2 linked regions of the Homo sapiens genome follow. The protein of the gene in region 1 interacts with the protein of each later gene in a pairwise test. Each region holds a gene or a part of one and is shown in the gene's direction. Other genes may lie near its edges. The genes, in order: NPHP4 and SPATA7.

What was found.
Region 2: the proteins of NPHP4 (region 1) and SPATA7 interact in a protein complementation assay, tested with the Homo sapiens proteins (one study listed by IntAct).

The regions. Positions count from the first base shown.
Region 1 is NC_000001.11:5,863,426-5,873,879, reverse strand, and holds part of NPHP4 (nephrocystin-4), read left to right. Parts: intron 1-544; coding exon 545-628; intron 629-5,983; coding exon 5,984-6,140; intron 6,141-6,764; coding exon 6,765-6,850; intron 6,851-7,421; coding exon 7,422-7,507; intron 7,508-8,606; coding exon 8,607-8,778; exon of another isoform or gene 8,779-9,356; intron 9,357-9,362; coding exon 9,363-9,542; intron 9,543-9,846; coding exon 9,847-9,990; intron 9,991-10,454. UniProt on the Homo sapiens protein: Involved in the organization of apical junctions; the function is proposed to implicate a NPHP1-4-8 module. Does not seem to be strictly required for ciliogenesis. Required for building functional cilia.
Region 2 is NC_000014.9:88,377,066-88,390,281, forward strand, and holds the start of SPATA7 (spermatogenesis-associated protein 7), read left to right. Parts: upstream 1-8,591; 5' UTR 8,592-8,753; coding exon 8,754-8,772; intron 8,773-13,216. UniProt on the Homo sapiens protein: Involved in the maintenance of both rod and cone photoreceptor cells.

The DNA.
Region 1 (10,454 bases):
GGAGTGTGTGAGGTGTGTGCAGACATGCAGTTGTGTGTGTGCAGGGAGTATGTGAGGTGTGTGTGCAGGTGTGCACTTGTGTGCAGGGGGTGGTGTGTGAGGTGTGCCTGCAGGGGGTGTGTCATGCCCGGGTGCGTGAGGCCGGCATGGGGTGTGGAGTGTGTGTTTCAGCTTTTGACCTTTTGGGGTCAGCTCTCTAGGGTGGTGGTCATCGCTTAAGGTGGACTTGAGATGTCCCTAGAGGCTCACTCACAGGATGCCATGCTGGCTCTTGGGATGGGCTGTGAGGACTGCAGGTGGGACCTCAGGCCTTTGGCTTCAGGCAGAGCCGGGTTTCCACCTGGGATCTGCTGTTCCCTTTGTTCCTGGCAGCCTCAGCCTTCTCTGGCACAGTGAGGCCGGTTGGTGATGGTTGCTGCCTGGAGAGTCAGTGTGAGAGGAGGCTGGTGGCTCCCAGCTGGGTGGCAGTGGTGTCTCTAAGCACAGGTGCTGGTCGCCTAATGGTGTTGCTTCCTGACCTGCTTGTGCTGTTCGGTTCCTGCAGGCCTCTCCTGGGTTGAGCAACGAGAAGGGCATGGACGCCGTGTCACCTTGGAAGTCCAGCGCAGTGCCCACTAAACACGCCAAGGTAAAGGGGCAACGGAGGACAAACTGATCTCGGGGCTTCCTGGGTATTCCCAGGGCCTGACCCTTGTGTCCTTCTCTCCCCTCCTGGAGGGGAGGGCTGGGGCCAGGTCAGGGCAGGGGTGGCGTGGGCCTGGGAATGGCCTTTTCCGTGTCCTCGCTGGGCAGGGCAGCTCCGTCTGGGCGCTGGCACAGCCTGCATGGTATCTGGTCGGAAATGCCTCCTTGGTGGCCGCCTTCTCACAGCCCAGGGCTCTCCGGGTGTGAAGCCGCAGTTCCCGTGGTGGCTGCCACAGCCTGCGGCCACTCCTTGAGCCTCACGCAGAGCATTCCCTGGTGTGTGAGTGTGTGGTGTGGTTCTTCCTGGAAATAAGACGTAGTCCTTGGTTACGTCCCTTGCTAAGCGAAGGCCGTATAGTAAGGCACCTGCTTCTCAACAGCTGGCTGAGACATTCTCAGGAGGAGCTTGAGACACTGCTGCTTTATGGCAGTTTCTGAAGGTTGTTTTTTATTCGGTAGAAACATGCCTTTTGTAGTAGTTGGGAAGTGAAAAACAAAATTAAAAAGCTTTGGTCTTTCTTACACATTGCCTGGAGGACAGAATTCAGAGTTCAGCGCAGTCCTGTGAGGCTGTGGCGTTCCCGTGGCCCGGGTCTCACTGTGGTTGCAGCCTGGCCCTCTGTGTCCACCGGGCCCCATCACCAGTGAAAACTTGCTTTATTTTATTTAAGTGTGCAGCCACAGCTTTGCCTTGATCTAAGGAATGTATCTGATCTTTATTGAGTGCTCTAGGTTAACGCTTTTTCCTTACATGAGTGGGAAGTCCCAGCCATCGCGTCCTGTTGCCAAAACCGTTGGGAGGAAGGTTTTCCTCTGCTAGCTCAGGTCTGAATGGTAAGGGCTGCAGGTGGATGACCGTAGACAGAGGGACAGCAGCAAAGACGGGCCTTACCGTTGTGAGCCCGTGGCAGCATTGGGAAGTGAGTAGCTTGCCAAATGCCCAGAGGTCGAGGTTTCTGTGCCAATGTAGCACAAAGGGGGCGAGGGCCAGGGCCTCCGTGGGAAGACGGGGACATTCTGTTGTCTCTTTATGCTGTGAGCATGGCCAGTCTGTGACCTTCCTGGAATTTGCAGGATGCTTTCACTTACACTTTCACATAGGGGTTTAATGGCAGCTGCACTTTCAGGTGGCTGTGCACTAGTCAGATAAGGAAAGTTCAGGTAAGATTTCTTTTCACCTTAAAATAATCTTTACGTCAGAAATATGATCTCTTCACATGAATTTGGAGTTTGAAGGGAAATCCTAGACACTGTGTTAGTTTACCCATAATTACTGCAGTGTGTATCTCTGACTGATAAGGACTTTTCTTTTTATCATGACTGCATGCTGTTGTTGCTGCCCCCAGTCAACGCAGACCTCGGCATCGTCTGCTGGGGCTGTAACCACGGGCCTTTCTACCACTGGTGCGTTTGGATCAGGACCCGCTGTCCTGGGGTGCTCCGCCTCTGGAGTTGCTCAGTGGGCAGACCACGTTGTCCATGAAGGCCACCCACAGAGGCCATGCTGGCTGTCACCGTGCTCAGGTGCTGATGGCCTGATGCCATCACCCGTGTCTCCCTCACTCGCATCCAGCTGAGGCTCCTGGCCCACTGCGTGTTCCATCCAGGGTGGAAAATGGTGAAATTGCAGTCCTGTCATTCTTCCTGTGATCTTTCTACAAACAAGGACTTTCCCGATCAGCAGTTTGGTTACCCTAAAATATACTTTGTACTTGAAAGTGAGGATGAATGTTAGAATCATTCCCTTTATCAATTTTCAAATAAATGAGCTGCGTCCTAGCAGCCTCCAGAGACAGTCCATGTTTGCGGCGTCTCATGATGGACACCGAGGCGTTATATTTGTATTTCTCATCCCATGGAGGCACCGCTCTTAGACGCTGGAACTGCCCTCTCTCAGGCCACCGCCATCCTTTTCAAGTTAACTCCTGTGCCTTTTTTAAATAACAAGTAGTTATTTTGAAATAATTTAGAACTTAGGGAAGAGTTACAGGAAGAGTGCAGAGTCCCCACATAGGGTTTTCCCAGACTTCCCGGTCACTAACCTTTGCCATGTTTGCCTCGCCACTCTCTGTTTGTGCATTTTTCTTGAACAATTTGAGAATAAATTATCAGGTAATGCCCTTTACTCCATGACACTTCGAGCTGGGTTATCTTGAAAATAAGGCCACTGTCCTCTGTGGTCAAAGGAGAGCCATGAAAATTAGGGAACTGACGCTCCTCTTCTGTCATCACAGGCCCCATTCACATTCACAAATGTCCCAGCACTTGATAGATGGCCCGTCCAGTGGCCCCCACCAGCCTGCTGCCCATGGAGTCCTTCTGGCGTGGCTGCAGCTGTTGTGAAGTGCACAGGCGGTTATCCTGCAGGGCGTGCCCAGTGGGGCTGGTCTGGTGTTCGTTTCAGTTAGACCCAGGTTATGCACTTGGGGCAGGACCTCCACAGACATTTGCCGTGTCCTCTACGAACATCATACTGTGAGGGACACCGTGTTGCTTTGTCCTGTTACTGGCGATGTTACTGTTTTCATTCAGTTAAGATGACATCTGCCATGCTTTTTTCCTGTAATATCAGGAAATGTCTAGTAATTAGAAAGTCATGAGTAAGTATCTTGTTGGGAGATACTGAGGCCGTTCAAATACCCTATTCTTCATCAGACTTTGACGCACTAGGTGTCAGTGTGCACTGATGACCTGGCCCGAGTTGGTTGGTAGTGGGATGCTTGCCTGCCATGGATTTTCCAATTCCATCATTCCTTCTCTGTTGATTACTGGTATTTTAAGTAAGGTAGAGCTGTGCCTTCACCCCATTCACCTATTTACTTTTTATATCCTTATGAACAATGAATTTCTATTTTATTCATTTTGTTACTATCATTATTTATTTTGTTGCTCATATTCGTGCCCTGACTAACCAGGGCAGCCTCTTCAGGCCAGCTCCTGCGTCCTGTTGATTCACCCCTGTCCTCCTTTGAGTCTTTCCTTACTGCCCAGCACAGCAAGACGCCCCAGGCTCAGCTTGCATTTCAGGAGTGTCAGCTATTTAGCTCGGGTTCCTTTGGTTGGAGAATGATATTTAGAAACCAAGATTTGAGCGTTAGATGTACTCAGTACTACTGGGATGTCACTGCTGCTAAGTCCCTCTCAGCAGAGACCTAAGAGGTGTATGCCTGTGGGTGCAGATACATACATACACAATATGTGCATATCATGCATATATGATGTATAGATATGTGCGTGTATGTGCACAGACTACTGTTTCTAGTGTGCTGAAGACCATGAATTTGCAGCAGTTCTTCCAACACCAATTTAACATCACGGGTTTCTTCCTGTTTTTTTCCATGTTTGTAATTCTCATTTCTGCTCATGAGAAACCTAGCTCGCATTTGGCTTACTTATTTGCCTAATTTCCTCTGTATATAACCAATCTGCTGACCACACTGGCCAAATCCCTTTGGCTACAATACCACTGGCCATCTTTATGTACGTGTATATTTCAAAACATCAGTACCAACCAGGGCTAGACACTATCTGTCAGTGCAAGATTTCTGAAGGTGCATTTGTCTTTAGGTCCTTTGTGTCCTGTGATTTACATTTACTTAAAGAATTCTTCTCTGGATAATTACAGCACCAACTTGATAGAAGCTTAGATTTGTTTATTTTTAATACATTAACACTTCTATTTATTTTAGTTTTCAAAATTAAAAACAAGTAAGTCAAAAATCAAACTATAAAGCAAGATATATTTGGAAGGATCTTGTTTCCATTCTTGCCCTGCCCCACTCTCTCCTTCTCAGTGTGTGCAGGTGTGAAGTGTGTGCATGTGTGTGTGCATGCATGTGTGTGTGTGCGTGCATGTGTGGGTGGTGTGTGTGTATGTGCATCCATGTTTGTATTTGTGCATCTGTGTACATGTATGGATGCATGCATGCATGTGGGTGTGCATGTGTGTGTGTGTGTGTGTGCATGTGGGTGGATGTGTATGCATGTGGGTGGATATGTGTGCATGTATGTGTGCATTGTGTGCATGTGGGTGCGTGTGTGTGCATGTGTGGGCGGATATGTGTGCATTGTGCGTGTGTGCATGTGGGTGCATGCATGTGTGCATGTGTGGGTGCATGCATGTGGGCATGCATGTGTGTGCGTGTGGGGGCATGTGTGCATGTATGTGTGTGCATGTGTGTGTGTATGGGTGCGTGTGTGTGCATGTGTGGGTGGATGTGTGTGCATGTGTGTGTGCATTGTGTGTGTGTGCATGTGGGTGCATGCATGTGTGTACATGTGTGGGTGCATGCATGTGGGCGTGCATATGTGTGCGTGTGGGGGCATGTGTGCATGTATGTGTGTGCATGCGTGTGTGGGTGCGTGTGTGCATGTGTGGGTGGATGTGTGTGCATGTATGTGTGCATTGTGTGCGTGTGTGCATGTGGGTGCATGCATATGTGTACATGTGTGGGTGCATGCATGTGGGCGTGCATGTGTGTGTGTGGGGCATGCGTGCATGTATATGTGTACATGCATGTGTGTGCATTTGTGGCTGGATGCGTGTGTGCATGCATGGGTGCATGTTTGCATGTGTGTGCACGTGTGCCTGCATGCATGTGGGTGTGCATGTATGTGTATGTGTATGGGTGCATGTGTGGGTGCATGAGTGCATGCGTGTGTGTGGGTGCGTGTGTGTGAGTATGCATGTCTCTGTGGTTGTGTGTATCTTGAAACAAATATAGCCTTTTTATCAGTTGTCCCAATTAATACCTCTTCAGACAATATGGTTTTTAATGAGTAGCTCTTTTGAAACCAGGAAAGTTTCTATTTCTAACCCCTTTGGTTTAGGCACAGCCTCTTTTTGCCATCTGGAATCAAAGAGCTTGTGCTGACGTGCTTGACCGCGAACTTGGCCCTGCCACCACCCACTCCAGGACCTCCTGGCCTGACTTGCGCACATGCACACAGGGTGTCGGGAGGTGGGATCATGGCAGGAGTAGTTTTGACTTGGGACTGCAGACCTTCTCCACTGGCATTTAAGAAGTGTGCTGTACTCGCGAGGAATAATGGCAGTGTGGCTGCTTGGGTGCCCTGTGTGGGTGCCGGCCCAGACCTTGCTTAGCGGTCCCCTCCTGGTGGAGACCTGCTGCTGCAGACTCAGTCCCTGCCTTTGACGATGCCCGACCTTCCCCGCTCATGGCAGTGGAGGGTGAGGGGGTCTTGGCAACAGTGGAGATACGTGTGCTGTCTAAGGAGGGACAAGAAGCTGCTCACAAGCCTCGTGCCCATCCCAACACTCAGCGTGGCCTCCTCACAGGTCTTGTTCCGAGCGAGTGGTGGCAAGCCCATCGCCGTGCTCTGCCTGACTGTGGAGCTGCAGCCCCACGTGGTGGACCAGGTCTTCCGCTTCTATCACCCGGAGCTCTCCTTCCTGAAGAAGGCCATCCGCCTGCCGCCCTGGCACACATTTCCAGGCAGGTCCTGCACTGACCCTGCAGCCCACATGTTGCAGGCTCACCTGTTGGAAGTAGATACCTCTTGAGGGTGACAGATGGCCTCATGGCTTCATGCCCTGGTGCTGTCAGAGCAGCACGTGGGGCCTGGGGAATTCTCTCTCCTGCCTTTATGGTTTGAAACGGTGTCCCTCTTGCCACCTCTGAGATGACTAGGTGCGCATTTGCCGGCTGAGTCTGCCCTTCTAAAAAATCCCAGCTCCCGCGGCCCAGGTCCAGGTGTGCCTGGAGGAACACCTACCTCCTCACCTGACGGCCCGCGTGTTTCTGGTAGGTGCCCCTTACAGCAGAGTGCAGGCTTCCCTGCTCCAGGGAGCTGTGTTTTCTTTTTTGTGGCCCCCTCGATTATTCCCTGTGGAGATGGCTGCAGCCGAGCCGCAGTGGGCTGGATGGGCGGTGTCCATGCAGGGAACACAGTGCTTGGATGCTGTCCTGGGAAAGGTGGCGGCGTCCGTTTCCCCAGCAGGTGTCTTGCTGAGCACCTGTGACGAGCCTGTCCTGTCCTATAGTGTGTAATGTGTGGGGCCTTCTCCACACAGGCTGGGGCTGTGGAGAAGACTCTTTTTGACATTTCCCCTGCTCCAGGTGCTCCGGTGGGAATGCTTGGTGAGGACCCCCCAGTCCATGTTCGCTGCAGCGACCCGAACGTCATCTGTGAGACCCAGAATGTGGTAGGTTGTGTTGTGGCCCCAGCTCAGGCAGATCCTTCCCAGTGAGTCTGCGCCCCTGTCGGCTTCCCCACGGGTATCCTGGGATCCTCTTCATTTTAGGTTTTCTGCTAAGTGGTTTCTTTCCCAAGGTACTAAAGGGCTATTTTGACATCCTTATGAGAGCTTTATGAGTGTGTTTTTATTTTTTCTACTAGCAGATCAGCTCCTTGATCATCTGAATTTAAATTTTAAAAAGGCACGAAGCAAAGTTAATAAAGTGGATGGTAATTAAGGCACTTATTAATTACCATTATGTAAAGGATAAGGCAATAATTGTGTTATGACCAGTTAGGAAACCGGATAAAATCTCCTGTAGAATCTAATTGTTGAGATCCATGTAAAATCAGGAAGCTAATGATCTTCTCTTTGGCAGTGAACAGAATAGTGAATTCCGATTGGTATAGAACATGAACAGATGCGTTCTGGGAGGGACTGGCCGTCACTCGCTGCGTGTATTAGTCACAGATTTAGGGGCCAGGCTGGGGTCGGCAGAGCACTGTGTGCCCTGATGTGCTGCACATCTGGTTGGCAGGGCCCCGGGGAACCACGGGACATATTTCTGAAGGTGGCCAGTGGTCCAAGCCCGGAGATCAAAGACTTCTTTGTCATCATTTACTCGTAAGTGCACAGGCTTTGGGGACCTGGAGGCGGTGGCGGAGGAGAGGAGGAGGCAGGCCTGGGGCTGCTGGTGGATTGAAAGTGGGCTTGGCCCCTTCCTAAAATTGGGGGAGCTTTCGGGCCTTCGCTTTGTGAGGCGGGATTCTGCTGCGAGTTCAGGGCCCGCAGGGGTCTAGGGAAGGCACCTTGGAGGGGCACGTGCAGCCTGAGGGACTTGGGATGCAGCTCCTGCCACCAAGGAGAGACACCAGTCAGCCTCTGTCCCCAGATAGTGGCAAGGGCCACCCAGAAGCCCCTCATTACCTTTTTCTTGCTGAGTCCCTAGGCTGAACAGCATGAATGAAGCTGTGGTCCCTCCTGCGGAGAGGCAGGACTGTGGTGGAAATGCCCATCCCTCTCTCCTCCAGGCTAAATGACCCGGCCCCTTTCCCCTCCCCTCCTAAGTCGGATCCCCAAGCCCTGTGAGAATCCTTTCAAACTGGTGTGAGCTCGGAGATTTCCTGCAGTGCTTCTGAGGATGGGGCAGGGGCTAACCTGCACTCAGTGCCCACCACAGAGGGGCCACGTGACCACGTCTCAGAGTGGCTTCCTCGTGAGCCCATGAAGATGCCTCACCCAGCCCCATTTGACTGTGAAGCAGCAGGCTCTTGGCCCTAAAATGCTAACAGGGGCTTCCGTGCTCAGGCCGGCATGACCTCCAGCCCCACCCTGTCTCCTGCGTGGCGCTGCCCTTGGCTTAGCCTCAGAACCCCTATTGGGGGTGGACACTTGTCCAGGATGTGTGTTTGGCCAAAGCGTGCCTTGTCATTTGTTTGACATGTGGTTCCTAAGCAGCCCTGCTGCGCCCTGAGAGCCTCTGCTGTGGGTGGGAGATGGGCAGCCAGGGGTGGAGCCACCAGGCCCTAGCTCTGCCTCCTGGGGCCTGGTCCTCCGGGGCTTTCCCTGCGTGGCCCCAGCTCTGCCTCCTGTGGCCTGGTCCTCTGGGGCTTTCCCTGCACAGCCTCCTGTCTGCCCACGCTCCTGGCAGCCCTTGTTGGCCTCTCGTGGGCCGGTGCTGAGTCCTCCGGGACAAGTGCAGATGGCTCCCATCCCACTGCAGGGATCGCTGGCTGGCGACACCCACACAGACGTGGCAGGTCTACCTCCACTCCCTGCAGCGCGTGGATGTCTCCTGCGTCGCAGGCCAGCTGACCCGCCTGTCCCTTGTCCTTCGGGGGACACAGACAGTGAGGAAAGTGAGAGCTTTCACCTCTCATCCCCAGGAGCTGAAGGTACGGCCTCTCTGGGGGCTGTTCTGAGCCTCTCCCCAACCCCAGCCTGGAGACGGGCAGTGGGCATTCAGCTGGAGCACAGTGGGTGGCCCTGACAGCAGCTTTTCCAGCGCCTCCAGCGCGCAGACGCTGTTACCAGAGGCCTCTCGGCAGTTGCCTTTCGTTAGATGTGCCATTGTGGGGTGAGTGACGTACACACCAACCCCAAAGGCCGGTGTTCAGAATTCCTGGCAAGGTGAACAGTGACAGGAGCTCTGGTGTTAGTGAAGCCACAGTTAGACGGGGTGGGAGGGCGGCCCCTGGTGCCACCAGCTGGCCGGGGTTTTAAGCCCAAGATGGCTTCAGTTCTGTCTGCGGAGGCAGCGCTTAGGGAATAGTCGCCGTGTGAGAGGAGGGACTTGCCTGGTGTGGACCCAAGTCGCGGCCACAGTCATGTCAGGGTTGGTTGTGGCCTCAGATTTGGCCGCCCCGGAACCACCCATGACCTTGGGCTCCCCTGGCTGATTGGGCTGCAGGCGCCCAGGAGCCCCTTGCTTGCACATCCTGAGAGGCTGTGCTCTGACCCGCCTCTCTCGCTCTTGAAGACAGACCCCAAAGGTGTCTTCGTGCTGCCGCCTCGTGGGGTGCAGGACCTGCATGTTGGCGTGAGGCCCCTTAGGGCCGGCAGCCGCTTTGTCCATCTCAACCTGGTGGACGTGGATTGCCACCAGCTGGTGGCCTCCTGGCTCGTGTGCCTCTGCTGCCGCCAGCCGCTCATCTCCAAGGTCTGTATGTGTGGCAGGCACAGGCTGAGGGGATGGGGGCTCAATACCAGGGCACTGCAGGACCCCCACCTCGGCCCTGTGACTCGGACCACTGGATACAGTGTTCTGACCCAGCAGGGCCGGGTGCATGAGTGTTTGCTCCTGTGCTGTGTCTCTCCCGGATGGAAGCTCCAGAGAGCGTCTGTCTTATCTCTGTGGGGGTCCCCGTGCACGGTGCACAGGAGACTCAGGGAATACTTGGAGGAAGGGCCAGTGGCTGTTCCCGTGAGTGGCCGCAGCGTCTCCCTGTCCCCTCCCTCCACAGGCCTTTGAGATCATGTTGGCTGCGGGCGAAGGGAAGGGTGTCAACAAGAGGATCACCTACACCAACCCCTACCCCTCCCGGAGGACATTCCACCTGCACAGCGACCACCCGGAGCTGCTGCGGTTCAGAGAGGACTCCTTCCAGGTGTGGTGGGGCTGTGCCTGGGACTCCTAGGGGAAGACCCGGGGACCTGAATGGAGGGCAGTTAGCCTGCATTTAGGAGCGAGTTCCTCAAATCACCAGCAGTCTTCCAAAAGCCCCAGGGCGGTGACAGGTACCATCCCATAGTTGGGTGGGCCCGTTGTATCTTTAGTAGCTGGAGATTTAGCAAAGTTTCTCCTGAGTGTGGGAAAGGGTGTTGTGCCCAGGGCTTTTCATGGTAATGTTAGACAGCTCAGTCTCGGAAATAAGTGTGCCTTCGAGTCCAAGTAACGCGTCACACTGGCTGAGCACTGGTTCCCATCCTTGTACCGGGCGCTGAAGTCAAAGGCAGGCCTTGGATGCACCCGCAGGGCTCCCCTGCCTTGTCAGCTCCCCTTGGAAATAAACACGACCATGCAGAGAGGTTGCTGGTGAGAGCGTGGGACAGCCCGGGGGTGGATGCTGGG
Region 2 (13,216 bases), on another chromosome or scaffold:
AGTAGCTGGGATTACAGGCATGCACAATCATGCCCAGCTAATTTTTGTGTTTTTGGTACAGACAGGGTTTCACCATGTTAGCCAGGCTGGTCTTGAACTCCTGACCTCAGGTGATCCACTCGCCTCAGCCTCCCAAAGTGCTGGGATTACAGGCATGAGCCACCACGCCCAGCCAGACTTTTTATTAAGGCTTTGATCTCATTACTTGTTATTTGTCTGTTAAGGTTTTGGATTTCTTCATGATTCAATCTTGGTAGGTAGTCTATATCTAGGAATTTATCCATTTCTACTAGATTTTCCAATTTATTGACTTATAGTTGCTCATAGTAGCCTGTAATGATCTTTTGAATTTCTCCAGTATCTGTTGTAATGTCACCTTTTTCATTTCTAATTTTATCCATCTTCTGTTTTTTCTTACATGTTTGACTAAAAGTTTCTCAATTTTATCTTTTCAAAAAAATCAACTATTTCATTGATCTTTTGTATTTTTTCCTTAAATTTCCATTTCATTTATTTCTGTTCTGATTTGTATTGTTTCTTCTCTTCTACTACTTTTGGGTTAGATTTGCTCTTGCATTTCTATTTAAGATGCATTATTAGGTTATTTGAAGTTTTTCCTCTTTTTTGATGTAGGTGCTTATAACTATAAACATCCCTGTTAGTAGCACTTTCATTGTGTCTTGTAGGTTTTAGCATATTGTGGACTATTATCATTTGTTTTAAGAAATTTTTCAATTTCCTTCTTAATCTCTTTTTTGACCCACTGGTCATTCAAAAGCATATTATTTAATTTTCATGTATTTATATGGTTTCCAAAATTCCTCTTGTTATTGATTTCTAGTTTTATTTCATTGTGGCCACAGAAGATATCATTTCAACTTTTCAAATGTTTTAAGACTTGTTTTGTGACCTAATATATGGTCTGTCCTTCAGAGTGATCCATGTGATGAAGAAAAAAAAATCTGTGTTCTACAGCCATTGGATAACATGTTCTGTACATATCTGTTAGGCCCATTTGGTCTATAGCACAGATTAAATATGTTTTTGATTTTTTTTTTTTTTTTGTCTGGAAGATCTGTCTAGTGCTGAAAGTGAGGTGTTGAAGTCTCCAGCTACTATTGTATTGGAGGCTATCTATCTCTTTAATACTAGTAATATTTGCTTTATATATCTGGGCACTACAGTGTTGGGGGCATATATGTTTACAACTGTTACATCGTCTCGCTGAATTGACCCCTTTATTATTATATAATGGCCTTCTTTGTCTCTTCTTAAGTTTTTGTCTTAAAATCTATTTTGTCTGATATAAGTATAGCTACTTCTGCTCTTTTTTGGTTTCCATTGACATGGAGAATCTTTTTCCATCACTTTATTTTTAGTTTTTGTGTGTCATTATAGGTGAAGTGTGTTTCTTGCAGCCACAGATAATTGGGTCTTATTTTTTTTTTTATCCATTCAGCCAGTCTATGTTTTTTGATTGGAAAGTTTAGACCTTTTACATTCAATGTTATTATTGACAAGTAAGGAGTTACTCCTCTCATTTTGCTATTTATTTTCTGATTGTTCTGTGGTCTTTGCTCCCTTCTTTCCTTCCTTCCTGTCTCCCTTTTAGTGAAGGTAATTTATTTTCTCTGGTGGTAGTATTTAATTTCTTGCTTTCTATTTTTTGTGTATCTGTTGTATGTTTTTTGATTTGAGGTTACCATGAGGCTTGCAAATATTATCTTGTATTTATTATCATTAATTATTTTAAGCTAATAACACTGCTTGCATAAACTAACAAGCAAAAAAAAACCAATAAAAATTCTACACTTTAACTTCATCCCCCAGCTTTTTAACTTTCTGTTGTATCTATTTATATCTTATTGTACAGTCTATGTCTTGAAAAGTTGTAATTATTATTTTTGATTTCATCTTTTAGTCTTTCTACTTAAGGGTACTTTCCACTCTACAGTTACAGTGTCATAATTTTCTGTGTTTTCCTGTATATTGACTACTACCAGTGAGTTTTGTCCCTTCGGATGATTTCTTATTGCTCATTAATGCCCATTTCTTCCTGATTGAGGTGCTCTCTTTAGGGGAGTACTTGTAAGACAAGTCTTGTGTTGATGAAATCCCTCAGCTTTTGTTTATCTGGCAAGGTCTTTATTTCTCCTTCATGTCTGAAGAATATTTTCACTGGATATACTATTCTCGGGTAAAAGTCTTTTGTCTTCAGCACTTTAAATATGTCATGCCACTCTCTCCTGGCCTGTAAGGTTTCCACTGAAAAGTCTGCTGCCAGATGTATTGGAGCTCTAGTGTATGTTACTTGTTTCTTTTTCGTGCTGCTTTTAGGATTCTTTCTTTATCCTTGACCTTTGGGGGTTTGATTATTATATGCCTTGATGTAGCTTTCTTTGGATTAAATCTGCTTGGTGTTCTGTAGCCTTCTTGTACTTGGATAGTGACATCTTTCTCTAAGTTTCAAAAGTTCTCTTTTATTATTTATTCAAATAAACTTTCTATCCCTATCTCTTTTTCTACCTCAACTTTAAGGCCAATAACTCTTAGATTTTCCCTTTTGAGGCTATTTTCTAGATCTTGTAAGCATGTTTCATTGTTTTTTTATTCTTTTTTCTTTTGTCTCTTCTGACTGTGTATTTTCAAATAGCCTGTCTTCAAGCTCTCTAATTCTTTCTTCTGCTCGATCAATTCTGCTATTAAGATACTCTGATGCATTCTTCATCAGCTGTGTAGCCTGGGGTTGGTGAGGCGGGACAAAGAGGGAGAGGTGCAAGCACTCTTAGCTTCCCCAGCTGGTATCTTAATAGGTCACACGTCCCACCCTCCAACTCAATCTACTGGCTTTGAGCCCAGCTCAATACCAGGACTTGCATAAGAATTGCAGTTCTTGTGGCCTAAACTGCCCCTCAAGTTCACTTAGGGCCCCAGTGCCTCCAGCCCACAGTGGCAAGCCTTGCCAGAACTCAAGCTCCAATTGCTGGAATGGGCAATTACCCTCTGCCTTGGGCCGGTCCAAATGCCCCCTCCATGGGCAGGCATCAGCTGAGTACAGCTCAGTTTGCTTTCTGCTGTGATGGGGCAGCACTGAGTCTAATGCAAAGCCTCATGACCGCTGTGCTCCCCCTCTCTGAAGCACAGAGATTCTCTCCAACAGGGAGCTGCTGCTGGGGAATGGGGGAGGAGACAGGGATGGCATCAGCAATTTAAGACTGTCTTTCCTACCCTCTTTGGTGCCTCTTTCAGTCATGTGAAATCAAAGCCAGGCACTGAGAGTGCTCCCTTGATTTTTGGTTCCTATGAAGATTACTCCCTTTGTGTAGACAGTTGTCAAGCTAGGTGTTCCTGAGAAGGAATGATTGGCAGAGCCTTCTATTCGGCTATCTCACTCCGCCCCTCCCCTGGAATCACTTTTTAAAATGTTTGTCAGTTGCACGTTACATTGCTTGAATAAGATTTGTAGGTAATATTGCCTTAGCATGGCTGCTTTCCTCACAGGGATGGAGCTTAAAACTTTCCTAAAGCCCCCTCTAGTGACAAACAGCAAATTATTATCCATTATTTCATACCTCCAAGCTCTAAATACCTCCAAGCTCTAAAGTTCCATTTTCTCATTTAGTTATTAGATGAATCAATTGCTACATTATTTCAATTAGAGAATGACTGAGAAATAGTTAATAGCTCAAATTCTCAAGCATTCTTAAATCACTGAAACCTAAGCAATTTTGTTTTGAGACTGAGGTCAGCACAGTGCACATTTAACTCTATAATTTTACTCTGCCCTCATACATATAATTTTTAAGGATTCCCTAAATTTCCTTCATTTTTGTCTTTCAGGAACTTTAAGGGTTAAAATATGTTCGCAATAACTCAATAAATAGAAAAATGTTGTTTTGAACTTTGGCTTCTTGTTGTTTTCACTGTATTTACTGGAACATTTTCTAAACACACAAATATAAATTCCAGGAATCCTCTGAATTATGAAACTAAGGGTCATCCATAAAGACATAGATTAAATATATAATAATAACATAATGCTTAAAATAATAATATATAATAAAACAGAATAAACAATAAACTATATATTATTTGCATAACTATAGGTTATGGTATTAAAATATATAGTTTATTTCACTTATATAAAATTGAAATATATTGTATATTTCAAATATATAAAAGCCCATTTCCAAAGGGCTTAGAGCTCATCCAATAAGACAGGCCTAATTAAACCATTAAAAGAAGAAGTCATATTCCTAATAAAGGGAATTAACGAGATAAATTTTTAAAAGGCTATGAATATTTATTTCAACTGAGCACAAATCTTAGTTTTGAGGTTCCTGTAAGCTAATACAAAAAAAGAAACCCAGTAATTGATTAGTTCATGCCAATTCATTAAGGGAAACAAAGTATTTCCGTCTAAAACACACATATGGGTCAGGCACAGTGGCTCATGCCTGTAATCCCAGAACTTTAGGAGGCTATGGCAGGTGGATCACTTTAGGCCTGGAGTTTCAGACCAGCCTGGCCAACATGGCAAAACCCTGTCTCTACTAAAAATACAAAAATTAGCCAGGCATGGTGGCTCACGCCTGTAATCCAGCACTTTGGGAGGCTGAGGCGGGTGGATTGCCTGAGCTCAGGAGTTCAAGACCAGCCTGAGCAACACAGCGAAACCCCGTCTCTACTAAAATACAAAAGAAATTAGCTGGGTGTGGTGGCATGCACCTGTAGTCCCAATTACTCGGCAGGCTGAGGCAGGAGGATTGCTTGAATCCGGGAGGCGGAGGTTGCAGTGAGTCAAGATCACACCACCGCACTCCGCCTGAGCGATGGAGCGAGATTTCGTCTCTACAAAAATAAATAAATAAATAAACAAACAAAAACACATATGCAGATTTCTAAATGTCAATAACAAGATTATAGCATTGGAATAATTTCAGAACATGAAATTCAGGTGTAAACATATATATTCAACAAAAGGTCTTCAGAATGCCTACTCTCCAAGGCCATTGCAGCTGGTGATGATTTTCCCAATAGAAGGGTGTTTCTTGGGAGCTCACCCTATAATAAACTCATACCAGCTGTATCCATCACCCATGATCATGAATTATTTCCTGGGAATAGCAACCAGAAAGAATCTTCTCTCTTGTTTACATACATAGAGCCAAAGCAAAGGACAAATTAAATTGCACTTAGGATAACATGTTCATTGCTAAAATTTGAGAGACATAGACCCTATTATGCACACATTCTTGAAATAATTGGAACAAAATATTGAAAGGGAAATAATGAAATAGATGGCTTCAGACAAAGTTGGGTACCAGACAATATGGTCTCCAGAAGTTTCTCCCATTCTGCTGCCCTCTCCAGATCACGCACCCCCCCGTTCTACTTGAAAACAAAATCTACTTGTCATCCTAAAGTCTACTTTTCTAAGAGGAGCTGGTATCACCTTCCCTGAGTCAAGTCACTGTGTTGCTTATCCCAAGGGTGTTTGCCTTGGGTTCCTTGTTTCTAATTCAATTTAACAAATGCTTACTGGAGGCCTATTATATGCAAAGTATTTGCTAGCTGCCAGTAGTGAAATAAAGGCCTTCATGATCTTAGAAATGGATTTCAGGCAATAATGAGTACCTAGGAAGGAGTTTTTGTTCTCTGCATGATATGATTTGGCTCTGTGTCCCCCTCCAAATTTCATGTTGAACTGTAATCCCCATGTTGGGGGAGGTACCTAGTGAGAGGTAATTGGATCATGGGGGTGGATTTTCCCCTTGTCGTTCTCATGATAGTGAGTTCTCATGAGATATGTTTGTTAAAACATGTGTAGCACTTTCCTCTTCGCTCTCTCTCCCTCCTACTCTGCCATGTGAAGAAGCTACTTGCTTCCCCTTTGCCCTTCCACCATGATAGTGTTTCCTGAGGCCTCCCCAGCCATGCTTTCTGTACAGCCTATGGAACTGTGAGTCAATTAAACCTCTTTTCTTCATAAATTACCCAGTCTCAGGTAGTTCTTTACAGTAATGTGAGAATGAACTAATAGACTGCATAACATCTGACTCCCTGCCCCTGTATCCTTCCAAATTACTTTTGTTGTTGGGGCCACAGAGCCATCACACACACTTCAACATGCCTCCAATTTTGAATCATTGTCTGCCTACCCTGGGTTTTAGGAAAACAGGGGTTCAAGCGTTATTATAACCGGGTTTCTGATTTATTTCTCCTTCCTTGTTACAGAGTTTCTGACTTACTCCCTCAAGCCTGAATTCCCTGATACCCAGCTCTGCTGAGATAGGAATCTCAGAAGAGAGAAAGCTAACATTTATTGAATACATTCTTTTATTTGCCAGGCACTGTTAATTCTTTTAACTATAAAATTAGTAGCATCATTTTTTCATCCCAAGCAACAGAGAGGTAGACTGTTGATGAAAAGAGTCAAACTCTGTAAAATATTTTTAGAGATTTATTCTGAGCCAAATATGAGTGACCCTCAGGAGGTCCTGAGAACATGTGCCCAAAGTGGTTGAGGTGCAGCTTGGTTTTATACATTTTAGGGAGGCATGAGACATCAATCAAATAAGAAATACATTGGTTTGGTTCAGAAAGGTGGGACAACTCAATGAGTATGTAAATTTAAACATTTCCTGGTTGACAATTGGTTGAGTTTATCTGAAGGCCTGGGATCAATAAAAAGGAAATGTTGGGGTTAAGATAAAAGATTGTGGAGACCAAGTTTATTGTGCAGAGGAAGCTCTCAGTATAGCAGACCTCAGAGAGAGAGCAGATTGTAAAATTTGTCTTGTCGGACCTAAAAGGGTGCCTGGCTCTTAGTTGGTTATCTCCTGGATTTGGAAAGGAAAGAAGGAAAACAAAGGGGAAAAGAGATTCTCTATAGAATGTGGTTTTTTCCCACAAGAGATTTTGCAGGGCAATTTCAAGATATGGCAAGGAAATATATCTTGGGGTTAAATATTTTGATTTTTTTTTCCTTGTCTCATAATATTATGCCAGAATCAGATTGGAAAGTAAGTCATGGTATATAGAGTCAAATAAAACCCATCTGATAAGAATTTATGGTTTCTAGGGCATGACTCCCTAGACACCTTAGATAGGAATTTGGGCAAGATAAAAAAATTAGAGCTTAGTCCTCAACTCTACAGAAGAAAATGACATTTACCCAGGAATGGGCATTGCAATAGGAATATGCGTGCCATGGCAAACTGTTTGCATATTCAAGGAATTAAAGGAAAAAAAAGTTTTTTTAAAAAATAAAAAAAGGAGAGGATTACATAATTGTTTTGAGGTAATTAGCCTTGGCTCCAAGCATCAATAACAAGGGTGATGTCAGTTCAAGGTTGGACAGACAATTGCTGGACAGATGTCCTCATAGAAGTATCTTTTTGGGTAAGGTGGAGGTCTTTGTGCAAGGTTGTGGTTTTCGCAGTATTTTGTGATAGTTTTATTATCAGGCATTCATGGATGAGAACTCTCCTTCATGGCCTTCTCCAGTTCCACTTGTCAGGTTTTCTAACACATGTGACTCTATTTTTGATTCTGACAACTTTCACAATCTACATTAGAAAAGAGAAAACTGGGGCTCAGAAAGTTTTAGAAACTAATTCAAGATCAAGCTGGTAAGTAGCAAAAAATTTAGAATTAAGTTCTACATATCTGGTTCCAAAACCAGGACTCTTTTCATTACAGCAGTGGTTCTCAACAGAGTTGCGATTTTGCCCCCCAGGGAATATTTCACAATGTCTGGAGACATTTATGACTGTCAGGATTGGAGGTGGAGTGGGTGGGGTCTGCTTCTGAGAAGCTACTTGCTTCTAGTAAACGGAGGACAGGGATGCTACAAAACAGTTCATAGGGACAGCACCCCCACAACAGAGAATTATACAACCAGCCCAAAATGTCAATGGACATTTGGGCTGAGAAGTCTTACATGACAGAATGCTTCCTACCCTGATCTGACGTTATTTCCAAGGATTCAAAGGTAACTGCTTCAAAATTAAACAAATTATAGAAAGCCATCAATAAATCAACCCCTTATTCATGTTGCAGCTCTCTTCCATTATAAATAAAAATGGATTGAAACTTACGATAAAAGGGAGGCAGGGACAGGAGCGGGGAAGCTTGGCGAGCAGAAAGGAAATTCAAACTTATTATTAAGGTTAAGAATTAAGATGTAAATATGTAGATGTTTTTCACCCCTAGGATTTTCACTAATCCAAAAGTTCACGGACTGCTTTGAAATTTAATTATTTGGAACTGGTTAAATGTTACCCTGACCTCAGCTAACATTTGTGTTTCACTTTTCTCCGGGACCCAGGGGACGTGGATGCCAGATGAGTCCACCTCCTCTCCCTGCTCTTCCCGCAGGGACAGAGCCTGCCAGGTGCTGGTGACTCGGATCCTGACAGGAGGTCGCTCTGCGGAAGACTGGCAGGATCCCAGAGCAACAGACTGGGGCTCGATGCCCCTTCCCCGCCAGGTCTCTCCGTCCGCAACTGTCCTCCTAGTACCGGGTATCCCGCAGGCGGGGCTGCGGAACGCACGTCCCCTGCGCCGTGACGTCACAATAGCGACTCACTGGACCCAGCCCTTAGCAACGGCCTGGCAACGGTTTCCCTGCTGCTGCAGCCCCCGTCGGCTCCTCTTTTCCAGTCCTCCACTGCCGGGGCTGGGCCCGGCCGCGGGAAGGACCGAAGGGGATACAGCGTGTCCCTGCGGCGGCTGCAAGAGGACTAAGCATGGATGGCAGCCGGAGAGGTAAAGGGCAGCTGTCAGGGGCTACCGCCGCCTCGCCCCTCGCTCCAGGCGGCGCTCCCAGCCTCGGGTCCGGGCAGCTGAGTGCAAGGCCGCCCCTTGGGGCGCTTCCTACCCCTGGCTGAGTCGCCAGTGTTGCCTGGAGCTGCCCAGGCCTGCGCAAAGGAAGAGGGAGAGCCTGCTTGCCAGCCTCGCAGGTCCGCTTCTTTGCCCTGAATTTGTCGCCCTGACACCAGGGGCCCCTGTCTCCTGAACTCAGGGTCGTGCAGCCTTTAAAACCTCAGTAGCTCCCAGGCAGAGGAACCAGGTTTGGTCTTTGGAGTCAGACCTCCCCGGGCCCCAAATCAAACCCCTCTGCTCTCCATGGAGACGACCCTCAGTTTTCTTATCTCTTGAACGTGAGGGTCAAATACCCAGGCCATGGAGTTCTTGAGGATTAAATGCAGATAATATAGAGAAGATCCTGGCGCATTTGAAGTGGTCAGTAAATACGAAATCTCCCAGTAACGAACTACCTCCCCCAAAGCTACTGAGTAACCCAGGGTTTCTGTAACTTTCTGTGAATAGGAATCCCCTCAGGGTCATGTTAAAATGCAGATTATGATTCAGTAGGTCCCTTGGGGGTGGCTGAGATTTTGCATTTATAATAAATTCCAAGTAATGCGGTGTTGCTGGTCAGCGGACTGCAGTTTTAGCAGCAATCCGTACTCACCATATACACCTGTTCTCTACTGATTTCTTGAGTCAGGTGGACATCATGTGGTGGGGTTGGGGGTGGGGAAATACAATCTTAAATATCTACAAATCGGCCCAAACCAAATAATTTGCATTTTCACACTTTCTGAGCCAGTATCATTCTTTCCTCGAGTCAAATGAGGCAATCTTTATAGACTCCCCGCCCCTCCCAATTCAGTGTTTTTATCTATTTAAAAGACTGCCTTTAAACCAAGCTGCTAGATGATTCCTTGATGTCTTTCTTTGAATGAGTCTGCCTTTATTATATAGTCATTGATCAAAATAAGTGCTACTCCGAATGTAGGAGATAACTATTCATTGATCAGCAAACTATTCTGACACTTCACCAACCTAGGTTTCAGAAAAAGCAAATCAAAACGCTTTATGATCTTAAGAAATTTTGCATATAAACTAACATTAAACCCTTGCTATGTACTAGGAACTATTTCCAAATTATCTCATTTAATGTACAAAAATACCTTGATAGGCATTAGCCTTATTTCATAGTGAAGAAACTAAAGCAAAAGATCACAAATAACTTGCCAAGATCACAGCGGCAGAACAGGATTTGAATCTAGGTGAAGAATATAAATCTGAAGCCAATGCATTTACTTACTATCCCATGGTAGGGATGGGCAGGGGGAAAGGATAAATGTAACATTTAGAGTATGGTAGATTTAGTAAGTTGTCAGTATTTGTTTATTGAATTATTTTAAAAATTGGGTTCATGCCAAATGTAAAAAGGTTTATATTTTTACAACTTGCACAATTTAATTAGCTTCATTTTTAGGAAATAATATATGATAATGTCAAATACTGTTATTTTGAATTTTTAAAATAAATGTAATCACCAAATAACCAGGGCAGTCAGCTTTCATGTACTGTAAATTAATAGGAAACCATAAATAATTTTAGACACAGCTAAAATAATTGAGAATAAATTTCTTAGATTTCATTAGGAGGTGCTTTTAGTTATTTCAGAGCATAAAATATTAAAACATCTAAAGAAAAATTATCTTTTGTCATGCTCTTACTGTAATCACGTTTTAGACATTCTTTTGTAAGGCAAGCCTTCTAAATGGTGGTATAGTACAGCACCAGACTGAAAAACGGTTAGTCTTGTTTGTAATCTTTGTTTCCTACTAACTAACTAGGTAATCTTCAGCATGTCACTGTACGTCCCTGGGCCTCAGTTATTTATAAAATGGGGGCTTGGACTAGGTATATATAAGGCATGGTTTCCAGCTTCCTATGGGGGAAGGTGAAGAAAAGATTGAGAATAACAAACTGCCATTCACTCTAATATCAATGACCTTTAGGAAGGAGAGGAGACAACCTATTAGTATATTACTGAAAGTAACTTGAAAAAAAATTTTTTCCCAGCACTCTGGGAGGCTGAGGCAGGTGGATCACTTGAGGTCAGGAGTTTGAGACCAGCCTGGGCAACAGAATTAAACCCTGTCTCCACCAAAAAATACAAAAATTAGCCAGGCATGGTGGCGTGCGCCTGTAGTCCCAGCTACTCGGGAGGCTAAGGCAGGAGAATCACTTGAACCTGGGAGGGGGAGGTTGCAGTGAGCCAAGATCATGCCACTGCCCTCCAGCCTGGGCAACAGAGCAAGACTCCATCTCAAAAAAAAAATTGTTTTGATCTGTTGGTCTCATAGAGACACTTATCAATGGTAGATTTCCAAACCTTTGGTTTTCCAGAGAAACCTTGCCACAAGAAACACTTTCATCTTTCCTCACTGGACTTTCTTCTGGCTATTTTAATCAAATTGTGTAGGAAAATGGGCTGCTCTCATATACCAGTGAATTTCACCACTAAGACCTTCAATCTCATTGACAAGATTTTAGTCCTAATAGTTAGAGAATGATGTTCTTTTCCTTGGCATTTGGTTTGAGGCTACTTCTCCATGCCCCTTTGGCTCATTCTGGGTCCAGTCCAGTCAGGAGATAGAAACCATACAGTGATTTTTATACAAGGAAAAGTTAAAGAATTGTTATACTTTCATAAAAGAGTAACTATAAGATGTAAGGGGCTGGGCGTGTCAGCTCATGCCTGTAATCTCAGCATTTTAGGAGGCTGAGGCAGGAGCATCACTTGAGGTCAGTGGTTTGTAATCAGCCTGGGTAACATAGCAAGACCCTGTCTCTAGTATATAAAACAAATTAATGAATTAATTAAAAAGATAAGAAAACTGTATTTGGTACCTAGAATTACGGGAAAGTACTCAAAGAAGGACAATTTGAAAGAGAGTTTCTCCCAAAGACTGGGGTTCAGACCTCATTAGAGAAGGCGTGATTGTGCACTTGCCCAAAGCTTCATCACCGAGGAGTGATATCGGAGGCTTCACATTCCATGGGAAATAGACTTTGATAAATTGCTTAGCCAAGTCACTAAACAAACAAGTGAACAACAATGAAAACAAGCTCAGGAGAGGATTCTGTATCTAGAGTTGCTGCAATATATTACCTAAAATGTTAACTTTTCAACAAAAAGAAATTGCAAGTCATGCAAAAAAACAAAAACAAAAAAACAGGAAAATGTGACCTATACACAGGACACAAAGGAGGAACCAGAAACTATGAGAGGGTAGATGAATTAAATCGTCTTATTTCTCCCCTCAATTCTGTTAGGTTTTTTTTTTTCCTTTCTCTTTCTTTTTTCTTTTTTCGAGACAGGGTCTTATTCTGTTACCCAGACTGGAGTGCATTGCAGCCTCCTGGGCTCAATCATCCTCCCATCTCAGCCTCCTGTGTAGCTGGGACTACAGGCACACACCACCACACCCAGCTAATTTTGTATTTTTTTGTGCAGTTAGAGTTTCGCCATGTTGTCCAGGCTGGTCTTTGAACTTCTGGGCTTAGGTGATCAGCCTGCCTCAGTCTCCCAAAGTGCTGGGATTACAAGCACGAGCCATTGTGCTCAGCCCTAATTCTGTCATTTTTAATATGACATGTATCTATAGGAATATTAGAAACCAATGAGTATATGCCTTGGTGTACGTCTGATGGTAAATAGACAAGGGAACATAGACATCAAGGAACATCTAAATTCCATGTTTGTTCTTATCACCATCTTATGCTAAAGAGCAGCTGGATTGATTCCTGGGGCCAAATATTAACCACCTTGTTCACAGCTGTCACTTACAGATGGGTGGGGAAGCATTTCTATCCAGAGCATTATCACTAGGTTCCAGCCTTTTTTCATTCTCTTTTCATCCTTTCACACTTCTCTGGGTATACCTGTTTTTCCTTTTTCTGTGACCTATAGTGAAACATACATAGAATAGAATGGAATTTGGAGGGAATAAACTACATACAGCTGAGATATCTTCTTGGTCTGTTTCACATGATTTAGTAGCTTAGAACATGGTTCAAGTACTGAGCAGTTTATATTGGTCAAGATAGTGTAATGATTAAGACCCAGGAAACAGACTGCTTGGGTTCAGATCCCAAATCTGTCACATTCTTGTGTAATCTTTGGCAAATTACAAGTTTAACCTCTGTGCTTCAATTACCCTCATCTATAAAGTAGGGAGAATTATAGTATTGTAAGGATTAAATGAATTTATACCAGCAAAGTGCTTGGAGCACTGCCTGGCAGGGTTACCACTCAATAAATTAGCCTTTTGACTACAAATGAAGAAATCAACTCATACTGGTTTAAGCTAAAATGGGAATTTTTTTTTTTTTTTGGCTAATGTAA